Linked DNA regions of Homo sapiens: region 1 is linked to region 2. A link means that fine-mapping ties the variant in region 2 to the expression of a gene that starts in the linked region. Tissue or cell type: lung. Region 2 holds a variant in brackets; the other region holds the start of a gene. All regions are shown on one strand. Distances are between the middles of the regions.

What was found. PIP is the estimated chance that this variant, and not a neighbour inherited with it, causes the effect.
Region 1: SPPL3 starts here. The variant in region 2 is fine-mapped to the expression of SPPL3 in lung (GTEx, PIP 0.91).

What each region holds. Positions count from the first base shown.
Region 1 is chr12:120,898,167-120,908,672 of GRCh38, forward strand. It overlaps SPPL3 (signal peptide peptidase like 3), which reads right to left and starts at 6,192. Exons shown (of 11, transcript NM_139015.5): 1 at 5,679-6,192. The coding sequence starts at 5,701. It overlaps XLOC_009911 (a long non-coding RNA gene), which reads left to right and starts at 6,529. Exons shown (of 2, transcript NR_131215.1): 1 at 6,529-6,606; 2 at 9,489-9,908. RefSeq lists silencers at 5,542-5,591, 5,732-5,951, 6,032-6,391.
Region 2 is chr12:120,860,425-120,870,930 of GRCh38, forward strand. All of the region lies in intron 1 of SPPL3 (signal peptide peptidase like 3), which reads right to left. Among named protein-coding and RNA genes, the nearest start is that of SPPL3, 39 kb to the right of the region's middle. The variant G/A (reference allele first, on the strand shown) is at 5,593.

The sequences.
Region 1 (10,506 bases), 38 kb after region 2:
GGTGGAGCCTGCCTGTAGTCCCATCTACTCAGGAGACTGAGACACGAGAATTGCTCGAGCCTGGGAAGCGGAGGTTGCAGTGAGTCGAGATCGTGCCACCACACTCCAGCCTGGACAGAGCAAGACTCTGTTTTTTTTTTTTTTTTTTAAAAAAAAAAAAAAAAAAAAAGATGGGTAGCACAGAGCAGCCACCTATTTATATCTATTAAATGCCAGGCACTGGAGAGAGTACCAAAAACAGAAAGGGTTTTATCCTTATGTAGCTTATTTTGTTTATCGTCTGTCATCCCTCAGAGAGACACACACAAGATCAAACCATGAAGAACCACACTAAGGAATCTGGGTTTTATTCTAAGTGTGGCCAAAACCCATACTTTTAAGCAGAGAACTGCCAAGATCTGACTTAGGTTGTTAGAAGGCCAAGAAGGTACCAACAGGTAGATAATGGAAGAAACCCAGCAAAGAGGCTAATACAGGAACTCAAGCAAAAGAGGGCTGGCTTACAGTCAACACTGTGGAAACATTAAGTGGACAGATTCAGTGTCAGAATTTGTGTCAGATAATCTTCCCTTTGAGCCCTTTACCATTTACATCCTTGGGCAAGTTACTTACATGCTTTGAGCCTCAATTTCCTTACTTAGCAATGCTCGTAAAACTCTATCACATAGAAAATACACAAGTTATTATGATAGTATTTTGGTAACAAAATTCACTTGAAGGAGTTCAAATAAATTGACTTCCTTTTCCCTCACACCAACATTAGTAATGTTGAGCAGGGGTTCAATACCAGTTATATATAAGTACCACATTTTGCTTCATCAAGAGACGAGTTCCCGTTTCTCACAGAACTTACACTAAAACTGCTCATAAATATACAGGAAGAAAGGTGTTTTTCTCAAATTAATAAAAGTCTAGTTAGCACATTCAATCTGTGTTTTCACATGCATTCTTTTACTTCCTCAGTGTATGTGAGAAAAAAGGCTATAAGGAGAATCTTGTAGTTAAATTGTGATAAAGATTCTGATGTTACTACCAATTATTTCAATTTATTCTGTTAATAGCTTTTATTTAGAACTTTAATAAAGGATGGCATTCCTCATTCTTGCAGCACTGGTACATCAGGAAACCAAGTTACAAAAAGCCCTCTTTGATAAGTACTTGGGTTATAAACACTTATTTTTCACTCAGTAGCATCCTCCTTATGTTTAATATTCTTTCAACAAAGGATGAACCATCCTGAAATTCAGTGTCATATTTACCACTTGGTATTTACTCAGTAGGGTCTATGTGTACTACAATGTGCTAGGCACTATGGGAGAACCAAGGTTAGTGTCATATGGTCCTTACTCTCAAGGAGTTTACAATATAGTTAGATTAGGCATTTACATGAGATAAGGAAGGAATTATGCAGACAGAACTGTAAGTATTAAAAATAAAAAGATCGCCGGGCACAGTGGCTCACACCTATAATCCCAGCACTTTGGGAGGCTGAGGCGGGAGGATCACCTGAGGTCAGGAGATCAAGACCATCCTGGCTAACATGGTGAAATCCCATCTCTACTAAAAATACAAAAAAATTAGCCGGGCATGGTGGTACACGCCTGTAATCCCAGCTACTCGGGAGGCTGAGGCACAAGAATCGCTTGAACCCAGGAGGCGGAGGTTGCTGTGAGCGGAGATCATGCCATTGCACTCTTGGGCGACAGAGCAAGACCCTGTCTCAAAAAAAAAAAAAAAAAAAAAAGATCATTTTCATATGGGGTGGTCAGAAAATGCTTCACAGCTAAGCAGAATTTGAGTTGAACCCTTGAGTACAGGATTTTGATAGAATTTGCTAGGAAGAGAGCAAGCACACGTGAACTTACATATAAAGGGCCTTGTTGAAAAAACTTTTTATTCTGAAAAATTTAAACATGTAAAAGTCAACAGAATAATAAACCTCCATGTACTCATCACCCAGCTCCAGTAATGATCAACTCATTGCCAATAATTTACATCTTATTATACGAAAATCCTAAGGGAGCCCATCTGCATATGCCTTTATATTCTTCACCGAGTCCATCCTCAGACAAATCTTTAGTGGCACAACAGTCTCCACAGTTTGGTTTTTCCAAAGGTCACATACAAACAAAGTGCAAATCTGTTTAAAAAAAAAAACAGCAGGACCAGGCACTGTTGCTCACGCCTATAATCCCAGCACTTCGGGAGGCCAAAGCAGGCAGATCACTTGGGCTGAGTTCAAGACCAGCACCGGCAACATGGCGAAACACAATACAAAAAATGCAATAATCAGCCGGGCGTGGTGGGGCACACCTGTAGTTCCAGCTACTCAGGAGGCTGAGGTGGGAGGATCGCTTAAGCCCTGGAGGCACTGCTGTGATCTTGCCACTGCACTCCAGCCTGCATGATAAAGTGAGACCCTGTCTCAAGGAAAAAAAAAAAAAAAAGAGAGATCAATTGCCGGGTGTGGTGGCTCACGCCTGTAATCCCAGCACTTTGGGAGGCCAATCCCAGGCAGACTGCTTGAGGTCAGGAGTTCAAGACCAGCCTGGGCAACATGGCAAAACCCTGTCTCTAGTAAAAATACAAAATAAATAAATAAATAAACTAGCAGACGTGGTTGTGCACGTCTGTGGTCCCAGCCACCTGCAGGGCTGAGGCAGGAGAATTGTCTGAACCTGGGAGGCAGACGCTGCAGTGAGCTTAGATCGGGCCACTGCATTCCAGCCTGGGCGAAAGAGTGAGACCCTGTCTCACAAAAAAAAAAAAAAAAAAAGTAATCAACTCTTGATTGTTTGCACAAGCCAAGGGAAGAGTGACAAAGATAACTGCAAAATGACAGATAATCCAAAAATCAGTCTACATAGACTACTGGAATACCTTTTCCATATTTATATTTCAATAAGAATGAGTAAAATGATGGGAGAATTCATGTCAAACAAAATAAAGCATCACAAGTGAAGTACTTTAAACATACCACTTGGCCTCCCAAGCCTGTTTCTTCCTCTGTGAAACAGGGAAATATCACCTACCTCAGAAACTTGTGAGAATTAAATGTGTATATTTAATGCCATGTGTATAGTTCCTTATTTTATTATATTATTAGTCAGTTGAATCAGGAACAACTATTAAATAGGAAGCTGTGGCCGGGCACGGTGGTTCATGCCTGCAATCCCAGCACTTTGGGAAGCCGAGGTGGGCAGATCACTGGGTCAGGAGTTTGAGACCAGCCTGGCCAACATGGTGAAACCCCATCTCTACTAAAAATACAAAAAAAAGCCGGGCATGGTGGCATGTGGCTGTAGTCCCAGCTACTCGGGAGGCTGAGGCATAAGAATTGCTTGCACCCGGGAAGCGGAGGCTGCAGTGAGCCGAGATGGCGCCACTGCACTGCAGCCTGGGTGACAGAGCGAGACTCCGTCCTAAAAAAAAAAAAAAAAAAAAAGGAAACTGCCCACTTTCCCCAGTCTCCCCTTATATGCCACCCTCTCTCCAGATAATGTAAAAATTTTCTTCATCTCAAAACCTGCCAAAGGTTGAGGGGCTAAGCTCCCCGATTTCAAGGAGTTTCTTTGCCTGTAAAGCAAACAGAGCTGACATTGAAGGAAGTATTTTAGTAGAATAAATTTGTAAATTGTCAAACTTCACAAAGTAATCCCTCCTTAATAGAGCCAACTAATGTCAGAGAGAGGTCGTGTGTGTCCAACCTACCTAGTAAAACATTTTCATTTTCCCCATTTCTTGACCACTGAGTTTTCTATTCTTTCAACCATCCAGGGCCTCTGTACAGCACAGTAAAAACAGCAAAGCAGCCATTAGGACTCTCAGGGCCACAGCCATTAGGGCCAGAGTATGAGAAGCTCAAGATGAGTAACCACAAGGCATGACAGAAACACCTTTACCTTCATTTCTTACTCTGTCCAGAAGGAAGCTGAAATTGTAATCTTGTGTTCCCTACGACCTGCTACTGAAAGGCAGCTGTCACGCAAAACTATGAAATTAGCTTAAACCTCTTTTTAGAGCACGTGTTCACCAAGATTTTAATTCTTCCTTTAGGGTTACTTTGTCTCTCAGTTACCTTCTTCTTGAGATTGCACATACATCAATGAAGTTCTCTTAAGAATTATCATCTTCAATCCCCAACTCCCTTTCTCTTATGTGAAGACTCAATGAGTTACTGACTTATAACCTCTAACACTATAAATAATCCACTCAAAGTCTTCTACCTAAAACCATTCCTTATTTTCTGATATTACCCATTTCTTAGATGTTTCTCTAGGATAATTATAATTAATGTAGTAAGATCTGTGGCACTTCACAGTTTGCCAAGTGCTTTCTAAATGTACTCACTTAATCCTTACAGGCTGTGGAAAAGGTAATTCCCTCTATTTTATAGGTAAGGAAAAAGGACCGAAGAACTCACTACCATGTCGTATCAACAAAGCAAGTTGGTGGCAAACCGGACCTCCGAAATAGGTCTTCCAACTCCACACGGCATGCTCGTCCCATTCTATTATGCTCTTTTCTAAGAAGGGAATGTCTACAGTTCTGTCCCAAACCACATTTGCTTCAAGAGTAAACCATCTTCAAACCATTTCTCTAAATTGCAATCAGGTCCCCCACTCCTACGATCATGCCATTTCTTGCTTCCTCACTCTCCAGCTATGACTTCCTTCTCACTACCCGATTTCCACTCTTCATGGATACTGCCATCATTCCTTCAACCCGTCCTGCAAATATCCCACCTCTACATGCTAAAGGGAGACCCCTCATGTTCCTTCCCCCAAACCCTGGCACTCCCTTCTCCGGATATGTAGGTTGTCACCCCATAAACTACACAGTAGCTTCTCGCTTCTCGGCCCTTAACGAGCTACTTACTAACTTTAAAAGCCCCACAGAAATGAACTTAACTTGCAGGTCCTCCACCTCCACACTTGGCCCTGGGCGCCATTCCTCTGAAAATAATAGTACCAACCCTTACAAAGACTCTGCCCATGCCCCACTGTCACCAACGAATTCCTTTTCCAGAAGGAAAAGGAAACAGGTTCTTCAGGCTCCTCTTCCAACCTCTTCACCAGTGACTCCCCTCCAAGGTTCGTGGACTCTACCCCCGCAGTTTTCCTCCCCTCACTCCCGGGCCTCTGCCCACCTCACCAACTCTCCCTGCGCTCCCTGTCCCAGAGCCAAGCGGCGGCCGCTCCACTCTCCCAACTTAGAAGTTCTGCCTCTATCACCTGTTCTCACTAGAGCTTCCTCTCAGCCCAGCGGCCCACCTTTGCCCTGGCCTGCCTCTCTCCACCCCTTCGAGTCCTCCTGCCCAGGAAACACCCCCACGAGTCAGTTCCGGGGTGCCTGTCGGATTCAACTTCCCATCCGTGGGATTCCCACCCCCGGGGTCATGCTCCCCTTCTCCATCACCTGCTCCGCCCATAGCCAGATGACATCCGCCGCTGCCTCCTCCTCCATTCCCCTTCTCGGACGCCAGGTCCCCGGCCACTCACCGCCCTCCGTGCGCGCCAGCCGCCCCCTCCGGTGGGGAAGAGGGGGGCGTGCACCCCAACCCGCGCCCCCCCCCCACGACACGCACCTGTTCTTCCTCCTCTTCCCCTCGGCGGGCCGCGCCGGCGCCCCGACCCCCACCCTTGCCGCCTCCCGGCCTCCCGGAGCCCCGCACTCACCACGAGTAGGTCTGCTCCGCCATGGCGCTGCCTCTCGTGGGCTCCGCTGCAGGCTGTGGCCGGGCCCGGCGGCGGCGGGCTCGCTCGGGCCGTAGCTGAAGGCGCGGCCGGGGTCCGGTGCTTGCTTGCTTGCTCGCTCGCTGGCTCGCTGGCTGCACGGCGGGCCGGGAAGGCGGCTGGCGGGGAGAGGCCGGGCTCCGAAGCGGCCCCGCTCCCTGGGCCCCGGGGCGGGGCGGGCTCCGCTCTCGGCCTCCCTCACCCGCGGCGGCGGCGGCGGCTCCGCTGCAGCTCCAAACCCAACATGGCGGCGGCGGCGGCGCGGAGAACAAGGGGGCCCTGGGGCGGGCGAACGGCAAGACGGGCCCGCGCTCACTGCGCGCGGGGCCGCGGGAGCGCCGCGCTCGGGCGGCGGCGGCGGCGGCCGGGGGACATGGCCGGCGGGCGGAGGCGGCGGCGACTGAGGGGGGCGCTAGGCGATGAGGCGAGGCCACTCGATCACACCCGCCGAGGGGAGGAGGGGCGGGGGCGGGGGCGAGCCTTGGCCCCGCGCGGGTCACGTGCCCAAAACACGCTCACGTGATGCGCGCCCCGCCCCTCGAGCCGGGCCCATGCGCAGAGACGTCGGCTCCTGGGTTCTAGGCGGCTGCTGCTCGCACAGCCAGAGCAGTTGGGCCGCCTCCCGCTGCCTGGTGCCGCCCCCCTCCCCACGCGGAGATGTCGCCTCGGGTACCCTCTTCCGCCCCTCTCCGAGGGGCTGCTGCACCAGCCAATCGGGAACCCCGATGCGCGTCTGTTGGCTGCCACTCAGCTGTCAACCGTCAGTCAACAGTCTGCTGGCCACGGGCCCCCCAACTGTCAGTCAACCTGTCAGTCAACAGGCAGAGGGCTGCATTCCTTCGTTCGTATGTTCCTTGGTTCATTCATTCAGGTAGCAAATATTCCAGGCAGCCAACCTTTATTGCGCCCAGGCCCGGCACCAAGTCGAATACCCCACGCTTGCCTTCACAGAATCAATCAACAGATATTTGTTGGGTGCCAACCATGTGTCAACTCACTCTGCCTTCCTAGAGCTTACATTCTAAAGGAAGAGACATAGTCCAAGCCCACAAATAAGATAATTTCAGATGCTGCTAAGTTTTACAAAAACACATTTTGTAACACAAGGTGAGGGGACAGAGAGTGAGCAGAGGTGTGGGTTACTTTAGATAGGGTGGTCAAGGAAGGCCTCGCTTAGGAGGTGACATTTGAGCTGATATTGAATGATGACAGAGAGCTGGCCTTGCAAAGATCCACAGGAAAAGAGTTCCTGGCAGAGGGAACAGCAAGGGCAGAAGGCTCAGGAAACCGTCCATTTGGAGGTCTGGAAACCGGCACAGAAATAAACACGGTAGAGCTAGACCAGAGACCAACAAAGTGAATCTGGAGCTTAGATGGAGAGAGAAGAGAGAGATTAATTGAGGCCCCAGGTACTGCGGAATGCTTCCCCAGGAGTGGATGAGGCCGTCTGAAAGGGTGAGAGGCTTATCAAAGAAAAGTCATTCTTTTGGCCGGGCGCGGTGGCTCACGCCTGTAGTCCCAGCACTTTGGGAGGCCGAGGTGGGTGGATCATGAGGTCAGGAGATCGGGACCATCCTGGTTAACACGGTGAAACCCTGTCTCTACTAAAAATACAAAAAATTAGCCGGGCGTGGTGGTGGACGCCTGTAATCCCAGCTACTCAGGAGGTTGAGGCAGGAGAATGGCGTGAACCCCGGAGGCAGAGCTTGCAGTGAGCCGAGATTGCGCCACTGCACTCCAGCCTGGGCAACAGCGAGACTCTGTCTCAAAAAAAAAAAAAGAAAAAGAAAAAGAAAAAGAAAAAAAAAAAAGAAAAGGCATTCTAGAAAGAAAGAATGGCATGAAGTAAGGCCCAATTCCTGGTGAGCTTGAATCCGAGAGTGGGATGGGTGATTTGTGCTGGAGTGTTGAGAAAATATACTGAGAAGGTGCACTGAGGCCAGACTTTGAGGGCCCAGCTAAGCCTCCTTGCCAGTTACTGTGTTCATGAATAAAAATGATTAACCAGTGCAGCTTCAGAATTTAGAAACATGCCTGGGCAACAGATACACTAACCCTCCTGGACACCCCTCCACCCCCACCCTTCACCCCCCTGTTTCTCTGCAGAAGGCAAAACTCACACACCTGAAACCAACGTACTCAAGCTTCTCTGCAGCTTGCCCAACTTTAGGCCAGAATTTAGCTCTGCTCCAGTTTCCCAGGGCCTGCCCAGGCTTACAGGGAACACCACACCCTGAATCTATCTCCAAATGGATCAGTTGGCCATTGCCCATACATCTGCCGCTTGCCTGTTCCCCAAGGGAAACCCTTTAAAGAGAAAGCCAAGTACACTTTCCCTTCAGAAGCAAAGCTCTCCTTCCTTATTCCCCCACTGCCAGGTGCCAGGACCAGTTAGGTTCCAAGTGTTTCCTCCAAAGCTCTATCAGAGAGCCCTGGGAAAAGGCTCACTGATGAGATTGAGGTCCAGGCCGGGCGCGATGGCTCACGCCTGTAATCCCAGCACTTTGGGAGGCCAAGGCAGGTGGATCATGAGGTCAAGAGGTCGTGACTATCCTGGCCAACATGGTGAAACCCCATCTCTACTAAAAATACAAACATTCGCTGGACGTGGTGACCCATGCCTATAGTCCCAGCTACTTGGGAGGCCTGAGGCAGTAGAATCGCTTGAACCGGGGAGTGGAGGTTGCAGTGGACCTAGATCACGCCACTGCACTCCAGCCTGGCGACAGAGTGAGACTCCGTCTCAAAAAAAAAAAAAAAAAAAAAAGATCGAGGTCCAGGGGAGGGTTTGAGGCAGGGCAACAAGAAAATATCAAATCACCAGGGACCCTTAGTCTCACTATTCACAAGAAGACACTGGCCTGCAAAGATCTGTCCAGCCATAAACCCACCAGATGCAGGGATATTAAGGGGAGATGAGAAGGCAAAGGGGCTAAATTCTTTTTTAAAAAATTTTTTTAATTTAATTACTTTTTTTGTTTGTTTTTGAGACAGAGTCTTGCTCTGTCACTCAGGCTGGAGTGCAGTGGCGTGATCTCAGCTCACTGCAACCTCTGCCTCCCAGGTTCAAGCAATTCTGCCTCAGCCTCCCAAGTAGCGGGGATTACAGGCGTGCGCTACCACATCCAGCTAATTTTTTATTTTTAGTAGAGATGGGGTTTCACCATGTTGGCTAAACTCCTCAAACCCCTGGCTTCAAATGATCTGCCCACCTCGGCCTCCCAAAGTGCTGGGATTACAGGCATGAGCCACCGCGTCCGGCCAGGGGCTAAATTCTTGACATTCATTTAGCTCTCACAACCTTGCCAAGTGCTTTTACATAAAGCCAACTGTGTCCTTGAACGTGACGCAGTCATTCTGAGTTTCAAAGGGGCACAGAGTGAGGCTTTAGGTCCCATGGGAAAGGCCAGAAGCCGTTGGAAGTGGCTTTGGGTGATGCAGAAGCTTTTTCTTTGGAGAGCTAAGAACAAAACAGACCAGACATGTCACTTTTGAAACGAAAATGCCACACTGAGCCTCTGGGCGATTCACTTGGGCTTTGGTTCCCAGTGAGTCATAGAAGTCAAAGCCAAGTGGAAAGTTGGTGTTGGATGAATGAAACGGGAGCTGCTAGAGTAGGAAAGTCAAGGCCTTCCCAGAAGCAAAGGGACCATTCTTTTCAGTGGGAAAAATCTGGTGGAAGAAAGGAGGGAGAAGGGGTTTGGTGAAGGTATGGTGAATGAGGAGAGGTTTTCTTCTCTCTATCTGAACCAGAGACCTCCGAAGTGTTTCTTGAGGAAATGTGGCTGCAGACCCTAGAAGAAGCTACACAGCACTTGCCAGGGCTGGGATGATGTCCAGGCCATGGAAACACCGTGTACCTGGTCCCAGGAAGATGAAGTGTGGGCCCAGAGACTAATGGCTTGAGCATCTCAGGCTAAGGTTGCCGAGAAGTAGACAGCACCTCTAGATCCTAGTCAACATCTCTACAGGCTTGAAGTCTCCCCAGAGGGCAAGGTTGGAATAAATCTGAAGCCTGTGGCTTGCCTGGGAGCTGCCCAGACTGTGGCATCTGGGGAGTGACTTTTTAATTTTAATTTTATTTTGAGACAGAGTCTTGCTCTGTCACACGGCTGGAGTGCAGTGGCGCAATCTCAGCTCACTGAAACCTCCACCTCCTGGGTTCAAGCCATTCTACTGACTCAGCCTCCCAAGCAGCTCGGATTACAGGCACCCACCACCATGCCCAGCTATTTTTCGTATTTTTAGTAGAGACGGGGTTTCACCATGTTGGCCAGGATGGTCTCGAACTCCTGAGCTCAGGCAATCTGCCCACCTTGGTCTCCCAAAGTGCTAGGATTATAGGCGTCAGCCACCGCACCCGACTGGGAGTGACTTTTAGTCTCCCTGCCAGCAGCACTCAGCTCCAAGCTATAGCAGCCCCAGGTGTATCTGTGACACCTTTGGGCCTCAGCCAGGGAGTCAGGTGTGCTTCACAAGAGACTCAGGCATTAGGCTCCCCCAGGAGGGGTGCTTTGTCTCTCTGCACCCCACTGCAGGTGAGAGCGCTACAGCTTGTGCAATATTTGCTGAAAGAAGCCATGGAGGCTGGGTGCGGTGGCTCATGCCTGTAATCCCAGCACACTGGGAGGCCTAGGCGGGCAGATCACCTGAGGTCGGGAGTTCAAGACCAGCCTGGCCAACATGGAGAAACCCCATCCCTACTAAAAATACAAAAATTAGCCGGGTGGTAGTGGCACATGCCTGCAATCCCAGCTACTCGGGAGGCTGA
Region 2 (10,506 bases):
GTTGTCCAGTAACAGACTACAAGAACAAGACTGTTTAAAGTGTGGGTTTAGCACTGGTATTGCTTCATGAACTGTTAGCAACGGATCCATGTCAAGGTAAGTGCAAAAACTGAGAATGTTTAAACCTCATTATAGCAATTTGGTAATTTTCCATCTGTTGACTCTAATAATGAAAAATCTGGGCATGTATTTTGTTAAGTTTTTGTTTCTTTTTTCTGGTAATTTGTGTATATTGTATTTTATACACACGCACAAAAGTTTGTTCGTGACAAATTGGAGGGAGAGAGGAAGGAGAAATTAGTCTGGTACTTTGCTAGAAATAGTAAGAGAAGTAGAAGGCGGCAAACTTTTTATGTAAAAGAGTAAATATTTTAGGCACTGTAAGTAATATGGTCTCTGTGACAACTACAGTCCTCCCTATCTTTGGGGGACTGGTTCCAGGACAACCCCCTACTCCCCTTCTAGATACTAAAATCCTTGGATGCTCCAGTCCCTTATAAAACAGTGTAGTATTTACATACAACCTACACACATCCACCTGTATACTTTTTTCCTCCTCCCATTTCAGGGCTCCACAGGACTCTCATATACTTTAAATCATCGCTATATTACTTACAATACATAGTACAATGAAAACGCTATATAAATACCTGTTTTACCATATTGTTTTCATTTGTATTACTTTTGTTTTTTCTCCCTCAAATATTTTTTATCTGAGGTTGACTAAATCATGAATGTGGAACCCACAGAGACAGGGCCAACTGTTCTCAAATCAACTCTGCCATTCTAGCATGAAAGCAGCCATAGATGATATGTAAACAAATGGGCATGGCTGTGTTACAATAAAGCTTTATTTACAAAAACAGGTTGTAGGTCAGATTTGGCTTGCAGGCCATAGTTTGCTTATTCTTAAATGAGAACATGCTAGAAAAACAGAAAAAGGAAGGAGACAAAGTACAAAAATTCTCCAAAAGGACAGATCCTTGAAAAGGGTGTTGGCAATAAATAACAGGAAGGGAAAAAGAGTAAGATTTTTTTTTATCAGTGTGGTCTATATTTCATCTAGCTACTCCAGCAGCCACATTTCTGGTCATATTTTAAACAGGCTGTGGTAGATCCTTGCATTACTACTGTCAACTACAATGCCCTGAAGACATACCACACAGGTCAGATGTCTTCATTGAAACGCATCCTAGCAGCGGACTGAGTCCTGGTTTATCTGGCAGGGGAGTACGCTGACTGATATTACTCAGTATACAATCACCTCTCTGGCAGATTTAAAAATCATATGCCTGAAATTGTAACATATAAAAACCAATCCAATCTTCTAACAGGTTATCTTATTCCTTGTTACTTGTATTATGAAATGATTTCTGATACCCAAGATTTCTGAGATACCAAAAGGAGAGAACAGAAGGGCTGTGAGGGAGTTAGGGGTAAGAGAGGGACTGGGAACTCAAAGGATTGGGAATATCACTTTGGGCTGTAGTGCTCAACATCTTCATGTCTTCAATTCTAGAATTTTGAGCAACATACTTGAAGGTATTAAGATTCCAAAACAATAGTAAATAAGTGAACATGAATTACAATGTAGGCAGTACTACAGAAAATAATGTCCACAGTGTCCAGAGAAGTAGTTTTCAAACTTTTTAGTTCAGGACTCTTGTTGAGGACCCCAAAGGGCATTTGTTTATATAGATTATACTTCCTGATATTTACCATATTAGACATTGAAACTGTGAATATGAAAAATATTTATTCATTTTAAAATAAACTCATTATACATTAACATAAATTACACATATTTCTATGATCTGTTTCTACTCTTAACACTTCTGACACCAAATGTGTGGGTTTTTTCCATGTCAATAACCAATTTTCCAATAATAATTAGATGTTCATCAATTCAATTCTGACACTATTACCCAAAGGTGTCACAGGCCCTGCATGTTAAGGGCTAGGTCTCATGAGATTGCCTCTATTTCAGGTGCCGGTATCAAGTCCAGGTCACCCGTACTTCTGACTCATCAGCTACAAAGTTAGGGGTTTCCACAATCCCTTTCTCAGGTTTGACCATTTGCTAGGATGGCTCACTGAACTCAGGAAAACAATTTACTTACTATTGTTGGTTTATTATAAAGGATACAACTCAGGAGCAGAAAAATAAAAGACATGCACAGGGCAAGGAATGGAGGGCTGAGAGGAGTATGCAAAGTTTCCATGCCTTCGGTGGGTGCACTGTCCTCCCAGCACCAGTTCACAAGTCCAGAAGCTCTCAGAACTCAATTTTTAAGGATTTTTTGGAGGTTCCATTACACAGGCATGATTGATTAAATCACTGGCCTTTCCTGGCTGGGCTCAATCTCCAACCCCTCTCCCCTCTGCAGAGGTTGAGGGAAGGGGTTATATTTCCAACCCTCTATTGGTTCTTCTAGCAACCAGTCATCATCCAGAAGCTATTTAGGAGCCCACTAAGACTCAGCTCATTAGCATAAACTCAGGTAGGGTTGAAAGGGACTTCTCATGAATAACAAAAGATGCTCCTCTCTCCTCTATCACGAAATTCTAAGGGCTTTATTATAAAAGCTATTATGCCAGGAACCTGGGATAAAGACCAAATATATATTTATCACAACATCTAGGCCAGGCATGGTGGCACACACCTGTAATCCCAGCACTCTGGGAGGCTGAGGTGGGTGGATCACCTGAGGTCAGGAGTTTGAGACCAGCCTGGCCAACATGGTGAAACCCTATCTTTACTAAAAATACAAAAATTAGCTGGGTGTGGTGGTGCATGCCTATAATCCCGGCTACTCCAGAGGCTAAGCCAGAAGAATCACTTGAACCCAGGAGGCAGAGGTTGCAGTGAGCTGAGATCACACCACTGCACCCCAGCCTGGGTGACAGAGCGAGACTCCATCTCAAAAGAAAAAAAAAAAAAGTTTTAATGAAAAATAACTCTTTTGAAAGTAAAAATTAGTGAGAGGAATGGTACCGTTTTACATTTCTGCAAATATCTTTAATGTCTGGCTTAATCGAAGTCAGCAGTATTCTCGTATCTGCTTCGGCATTTAATCTGTACTATGATATATAGTTTGGTTCAAGTACATGAAGAAAATTCAACTGCATGCATATCTATAGTTTAAAATGTGAGTGGTATTTTAAGAGCCTTTCAGGTAATCGTAGATATTATTCTTCAATACTGAAATGAAATTCTACAGATGGTAGGTTTTTTAATTCTTTTTGAAATGTATTCTCGTTTTATTGCTCAGGCTGGAGTGATCACAGCTGACTGTAGCCTCGAACTCCTGGGCTGAAGCTATCCTCCTGCCTCAACCTCCCAAGTAGCTAGGCCCACAGGGTCAAGTCACCACATTTAGCTTTTTTTTTTTTTTTTCTTGTAGCTTTCTTTTTCTTTTCTTTTCTTTTTTTCTTGCAGAGATGGAGCCTTGCTTGCTGCCCAGGCTGGTTTTGAAATCCTGGCCTCCAGCAATCCTCCCACCTTGGCCTCCCAAGGTGCTGAGATCCCGGGCATGAGCTACCACACCCAGCCTAGATGGTAGTTTCCTAAAGGTTAGCTCCAATGTAAAATCTAAAACCCTATCAATGAACTTTCTGTACTCTGTTACATTAAAATCCATGTCTGCCTTCACTCTGAATGGATCCTTACCCATGCATAATTCTGTACATCATGCACTGGTAAGTTAATATTTGTTTCCTCAGTTGTGAGCTCTTCAAAATGCTTATGTATTTCATTATCCAATACTAAAAATTCCATCTATTACCACTGATCTCATCACAGAAGTCTTTAAATACTGGGAAGTTGTAGGCCAGGCCCAGTGGCTCATGCCTGTGATCCCAGCACTTTGGGAGGCCGAGCTAGGTGGATCACCTGAGGTCAGGAGTTCAAGACCAGCCTGGCCAACATGGTGAAACTCCATCTCTACTAAAAATATAAAAATCAGCCGGGTGTGGTGGCACATGCCTGTAATCCCAGCTACTTGGGAGGCTGAGGCAGGAGAACTGCTTGAACCTGGGAGTCGGAGGCTGCAGCGAGCCGAGATCATGCCATTGCACTCCAGCCCAGACAAGAACGAAACCCCATCTCAAAAAACAAAAACAAAAACAAAACCTGGGAAGTCATCAAGCCCAAAAATCTTATCACTGGCAACAAATATTATCAGTCCTTTCATTTTTTACAAAATCTGCCAAATACTCAAAGCTGAATAACCATAGTTTATTAGTTATTCTTAAAAGTAAAAATGTCCATGAAAAAAGATGGTTAGGTCAGCATGTAACTCAACCCTACAGGTGCTTTTCCTTAAAACAACCACAGTACTTCAACACGCAGCAGAAGTGCCTTGTGTGACCTTCCCATTACATCACACAAAGCATTAAAAAGATGTGCAATCTAGTGTCAAGAGTTAACCAAAGGAGTATTTTTTTACGCATTCTTAAGTGAAACTGGGTTAAAAAAATAACAAAACAAAACTGTAGAGTGTGTGGAATACAATGTCTATGAGCACACTTTGGTGCCACTGCCTTGATTCACGCTTAGGCACCAGCAGTACCATCAATACAAATGTTAACACAGAGAGAAAGATAACTTCTCAGAAATACTATATAAAGGTTTGACCTTGAGGATCCCATGAGAGATTTTCAGGGATTTCCAGGGAAATAGGGGCCACACTTTGAGAAGTGCTAATCTAGAGAAACATCAACAGTTACCCAGTTGATCACTTTGTGGCCCTTCAAGATTGGTTACTGTTTTAATATAACTGCTGACTGCTCTGACACCCTCCCACATGAAAATGCCACTGTTTCATGTCTTACCATATCTGTTACCTCACGCTCATAGCGAACTGTACACTGCTCTACAATGCACTGCACAATCAGCACAGCTCAGCATCTGATCTACAACGGCCAGTACAGTGTGGTTTAAGAGCACAGGCTCTAAAGTCAGTTTGCTTGGGTTCCAATCCTGGGTCTACCACTTACTGGCTGTAAGGCCTTGTACAGATTATTTATCCTTATTTGCAAAATGAGTACAATAGTATCTATCTATGAAAGCTGTGAGGATTCAACAACCTATTCAGTGTTTGGCATGGGTCCTTACACACAGTTAAGTGCTCACAACCTGTTACCAATATTCTAAATATTACTGTATTTATTAGTATATATTATACTACTATAATCCTGGGATAGTAGATGCATTCTAAGTTGTAGCAATGAAATTTTATACAGTAGTCAAGACTAGGCAGGATCCCCAGGGAGGAGCCTACGCTCTACAGCAGTGTTTCCCAAGCTAGCCTGGAAGAATCACCTAAGGCAGGGGTCTCCAACCCCCAGGCCACAGACTGCCACCAGTTAGTGGCCTGTTAGAAACTGGGCCGTACTGTAGGAGGAGACAGGCAGGCAAGTGAGCAAAATCATCTGTACTTACAGCTGCTCCCCATCGCTCACATTAACGCCTGAGTTCTACCTCCTGTCAGATCAGCAGTGGCATTAGATTCTCATAGGAGTGAGAACCCTATTGTGAACTGTGCATGCGAGGGATCTAGGTTGTGTGCTCCTTATGAGAATCTAATGCCC[G/A]ATGATCTGTCACTGATTCCCATCACACTCAGGTGGGACTGCCTAGTTGCAGGAAAACAAGCTCAGGGCTCCCACTGATTCTCCATTATGGTGAGTTGTATAATTATATTTCATTATATATTACAGTGTAATAACAGAAATAAAATGCAACATAAAGTAATGTGCTTGAATCATCCCCAAAACATCCTCCCCCTCCTCCCCATCCATAGAAAAACTGTCTTCCACAAAACCAGTCCCTGGTGCCAAAAACGTTGGAGGCCTGTGACCTAAGGTACCTCCGCCAAATCTAGATTCCTGGGTTCCACCCTAGACTATACATCATAAACTTAAGGGAAAGAGCCTGGGAATCCGTGTAACAACACATTAGGAAATTCCTATTACGCAAGGTTGGGACATATACCTCTAGAGAGAACATTATATTTGAGGAATTTAGAACTATTAAAAGATAGTCAACATCAAAAGTCATTTTCTGAATTAACTGAAATAGTAAGGCATAATTTACCTTGAAAAGACACCTCCACACATGGCAAAGTTTATCCTGAAAAAGGCATGTTCAAAAAAAGGAAAGAATTTAAAACGGAGAAATAATGTATTTCTTCTATTCTAAGACACAATGGATTGTAAAATAATAGCATACATTTCTCAAAACAGTTACATACCACTTTCCTTTTCAGAATCTGATAAAAGTTTGAACTGAAACTTTCTTAACATTCAAAGTCTAGTGATTTTTCTGAACTTTTGGCCATCTCCAGTTATGCAATAGTATCAAACATGTCACTTCTCAAAGTCAGAATTCTGTTCTTTTTGACATCTTTGGGACTGACAGCATAATTCTGAGGCAAATAAAAGAACATCTGAGAATCCTCTGAATTTTGTCTTTAAACTCAGTTTCATCTTTCCTCAAATAGATGTCCCTAGAAATTAAGCAGTTTCTCTTAAAAATAAGGAACGTTTTTTAAAACATTAGTGCTTGAGTGATAATCCATCCTAAGTCATGAGTCAGTCATAGGTAACCTCCATTATCTCTCAAACTCTACAATGTACTCCTAAGATTTAGCAATTTCTATTGCTTTTAACTGTATTATTTATCTTGGAACAGGCTATTTCCTACATATAAAATAATCCTTGTAGCACACTCTTTTTGAGAAAGATACAGAAAATAATTACATATCTAAATGTAACTTAAAATTCAGCCATGTGTAATGTTGTCAGTGCAAATAACTTTAATCTGATGATAAATGGTTGAAAAGACACCTCCATGCATGGCAAAGTTTATATATATGCAGGCAATGACATCTGCGACAGCACTTGGTGAATTTCTTTTGACATTAAGAACTACAAAGGACCATCAAAAATATTTAATGGTGTAGCTGGGCGCGGTGGCTCACGCCTGTAATCCCAGCACTTTGGAAGGCCGAGGTGGGTGGATCACAAGGTCAGGAGATCGAGACCATCCTGGCTAACATGGTGAAACTTTGTCTCCACTAAAATACAAAAAACTAGCTGGGTGTGATGGTACGTGCCTGTAGTCCCAGCTACTTGAGAGGCTGAGGCAGAGGAATCGCTTGAACCCGGGAGGCGGAGGTTGCAGGGAGCCAAGATCACTCCAGCCTGGCTACAGAGCGAGACTCTGTCTTAAAAATGTATATATATATATACATACTTAATGGTGCTGAGAAGAAGTTTATCTTAGAGTTGAACAACTATGGTATTAGACAATTCATGTATTAAAAAAAAATTTTTTTTTGAGACAGAGTCTCGCTCTGTTGTCCAGGCTAAAGTGCAGAGAGGCATGATCTCGGCTCACCGCAACCTCCACCTCCCGGGTTCAAGTGATTCTCCTGCCTCAGCCTCCCGAGTAGCTGGGATTACAGGCACCTGCCACCACACCCAGCTAAATTTGTATCTTTTGTAGAGACGGGGTTTCACCATGTTGGCCAGGCTGGTCTCGAACTCCTAACCTCAAGTGAACCGCATGCCTTGGCCTCCCAAAATGCTGGGATTACAGGCATGGGCCACGGCACCCAGCCTATGTATAAAAATTATAGTTCAGCCCAGGCAACACAGTGAGACCTCATCTTTACAAAAAATAAATTAAGCATGGTGGTGTGTACCTATAATCCCAGCCATTCAGGAGGATGAGGCAGAAGGATCCCTTAAGCCTGGGAGGTCATGGGTGCAGTGAGCCATGATCATGCCACTGCACTCCAGCCTGGGTGACGGAGCAAGACCCTGTCACTGCAAAATAAAAAAAAAAAATGTTAGGGAAAAAATGGTATCTGATAAAGTGGAGTACAGAGCAAATTCAGTAATTGAGGACAACAAGGTTAATACAAAAGCAATACAGGATATGTGGCACTGCTTTTCAAAGTGTAGTCCACGGACCACCAGTATCACCCAATCACTTGTCAAGTGGTCAACAGATAGATGGTGTAGTAATTTCTTTTTTCTTTTTTTTTGTTTTTGTTTTATTTGTATTTATTTATTTTGAGACGGATTCTCACTCTGTCACTAGAGTGCAGTGGCACAATCTTGACTCACTGAAACCTCCACCTCCTGGGTTCAAGCGATTCTCCTGCCTCAGCCTCCCAAGTAGCTGGGACTACAGGCGCATGCCACCATGCCCAGCTAATTTTTGTATTTTTAGTAGAGACGGGGTTTCACCAAGTTGGCTAGGATGGTCTCAATCTCTTGACCTCGTCATCCACCCACCTCGGCCTCCCAAAGTGCTGAGATTACAGGGGTAAGCCACCATGCCCGGCCAATGGTGTGGTAATTTCTAAGGAAAATCAATAAAATAATATTTTCATATACATCTGAAGTGTAATATTAATAACTTTTCACAGAAATACTGAAGTAATCTTAAAGGCTGTGGAGGTGCCATAGCGACTGCTATAATTCAGTCAATTCACTGGCTCCCAAGTTTACCACACCTAACATCTGTTCATAATGAAAAATTTTAAGTCTCTTCATTATATTGAAATTATATTAATAGTCTACATAACTTAAAAAATTACAATGTCCTAACTATAATATGGGGAATAAAGAAAAGGAAGCTGATTCATAATAAAACACTATTTAATATATTAAAACTCGAGCACCAATACACTAGGAAATAACATGATATAATAAAATGCTTGCATCAATTTGAAACATCACCATGAATGTGACAGCAACAAATGCAGACTGAATCAGGTGTGTCGAATGGTGACTACGATACCATGAGGAGTACTGCTGTAGGTGATGCATTCTACCAAAATGGCAAACTCTTGGTAAAGCCTTAAATGAAAAAACATTACTCACTCCTTGATTTACACAACAGTGCCATTCATAGAAAATGTAGTTTATCATGTAAAAAATGATTTGTGTTTATATGTAAAATATTTTAGACTTAATTAAAGGAGCTTCAAACACCATATGAGACAGAATAGTTATTCGCTGTAGCACTTTCCTGCACACTGCAAGACATCTAGCAGACCTAAACCCTGTCCATTAAATGCCTGTAACGACCTCTACTATGGTGCCAAACAAAAATGTTCTCATGAATTTCAAAAATGCACACCAGAGAATGGTATTACCACAGCTGAGAACTACTGAGCTAAACGGGTATATATGACTAGGTTGGATATTTTAAAAATCCTTTGCTTGCTACTATTTACTTCTTATGTTAGCATTTTCGCTACTACACAGTATGACTTTGTAGCTGCAATTCACCATAATGGATCAACAGAAAAGTAGTTATGAAAATGGAAACTACTACATCTAAGCATACTACAAATATATGTGATTAAACATGACTCAAGTACAAACAAGAATGAGAACATATATGTTCTGGAACAAACAAATTTCAAATGTGATGATTTCAAATACACAGCTGAGAATCCAAAAATAGGAATATCTGAAAACTGGATTTCACTGGACCAGAAACTACTCACACTAGCATGTTGTCCAAAATGAAAATTTGTCAGTGACATAAAGCCATTGAATCTTTCATACTGTTTTCAACAAATGTAACCAAAAATGTTTAGCTTACTGTAAAGGATGCAGACCGTAAAAGAAACGTTCAGTTTTAAATTATATTGTCAACATGGAAAAAAGAACACATCTTCAGATTCAGAATAAAAGCAAAGTAATAAAGAAAAAAAAGGGCCAAGTGCAGTGGCTCATGCCTGTAATCCCAGCACTTTGGGAGGCTGAGGCGGGTGGATCACCTGAGGTCAGGAGTTTGAGACCAGCCTGACCAACATGGAGAAACCCCATCTCTACTAAAAATACAAAATTAGCTGGTCGTGGTGGCGCATGCCTGTAATCCCAGCTACTCGGGAGGCTGAGGCAGGAGAATCACTTGAACCCGGGAGGCAGAGGTCACGGTAAGCAGAGATTGAGCACTCCAGCCTGGGCAACAAGGGTGAAACTCGGTCTCAGAAAAAAAGAAAGAAAAAAGATACAAAGATAAATGCAAAAATCAAACTGGGAAGAACAGAAAGCAGAGTCTTGAGAGATGTCTGTACAGCAATGTTCACAGCAGCATTATTCACAATAGCCAAAGGGTGGAAGCAACCCATGCCCAGTGATGAAAGAATGGGTAAGAAAAATGTGGCCTATCTATACATTCAAATATTACTCAGCTTTAAAAAAAAAAGTTAATTCTTAAATTCTGATACATGCTACAACAGGGATGAACCCTGAAGACATGATAAGTGAAGTATGCCAGTCACAAAAGGACAAATAAAGGATTCCATTTATGTGACCTAGCTAGAGCAGTCAAATTCATAGACAGTGGAATGGTGGCTGCCAGGGGCTCAGTGAGAGGAAAATGAAGGTTGCTGTTTAATAAGTACAGAGTTTCAGTTTAAGAAGATGAACTTTGGGAGGCGGAGGCGGGCAGATTGCCTCAGCTCAGGAGTTCAAGAC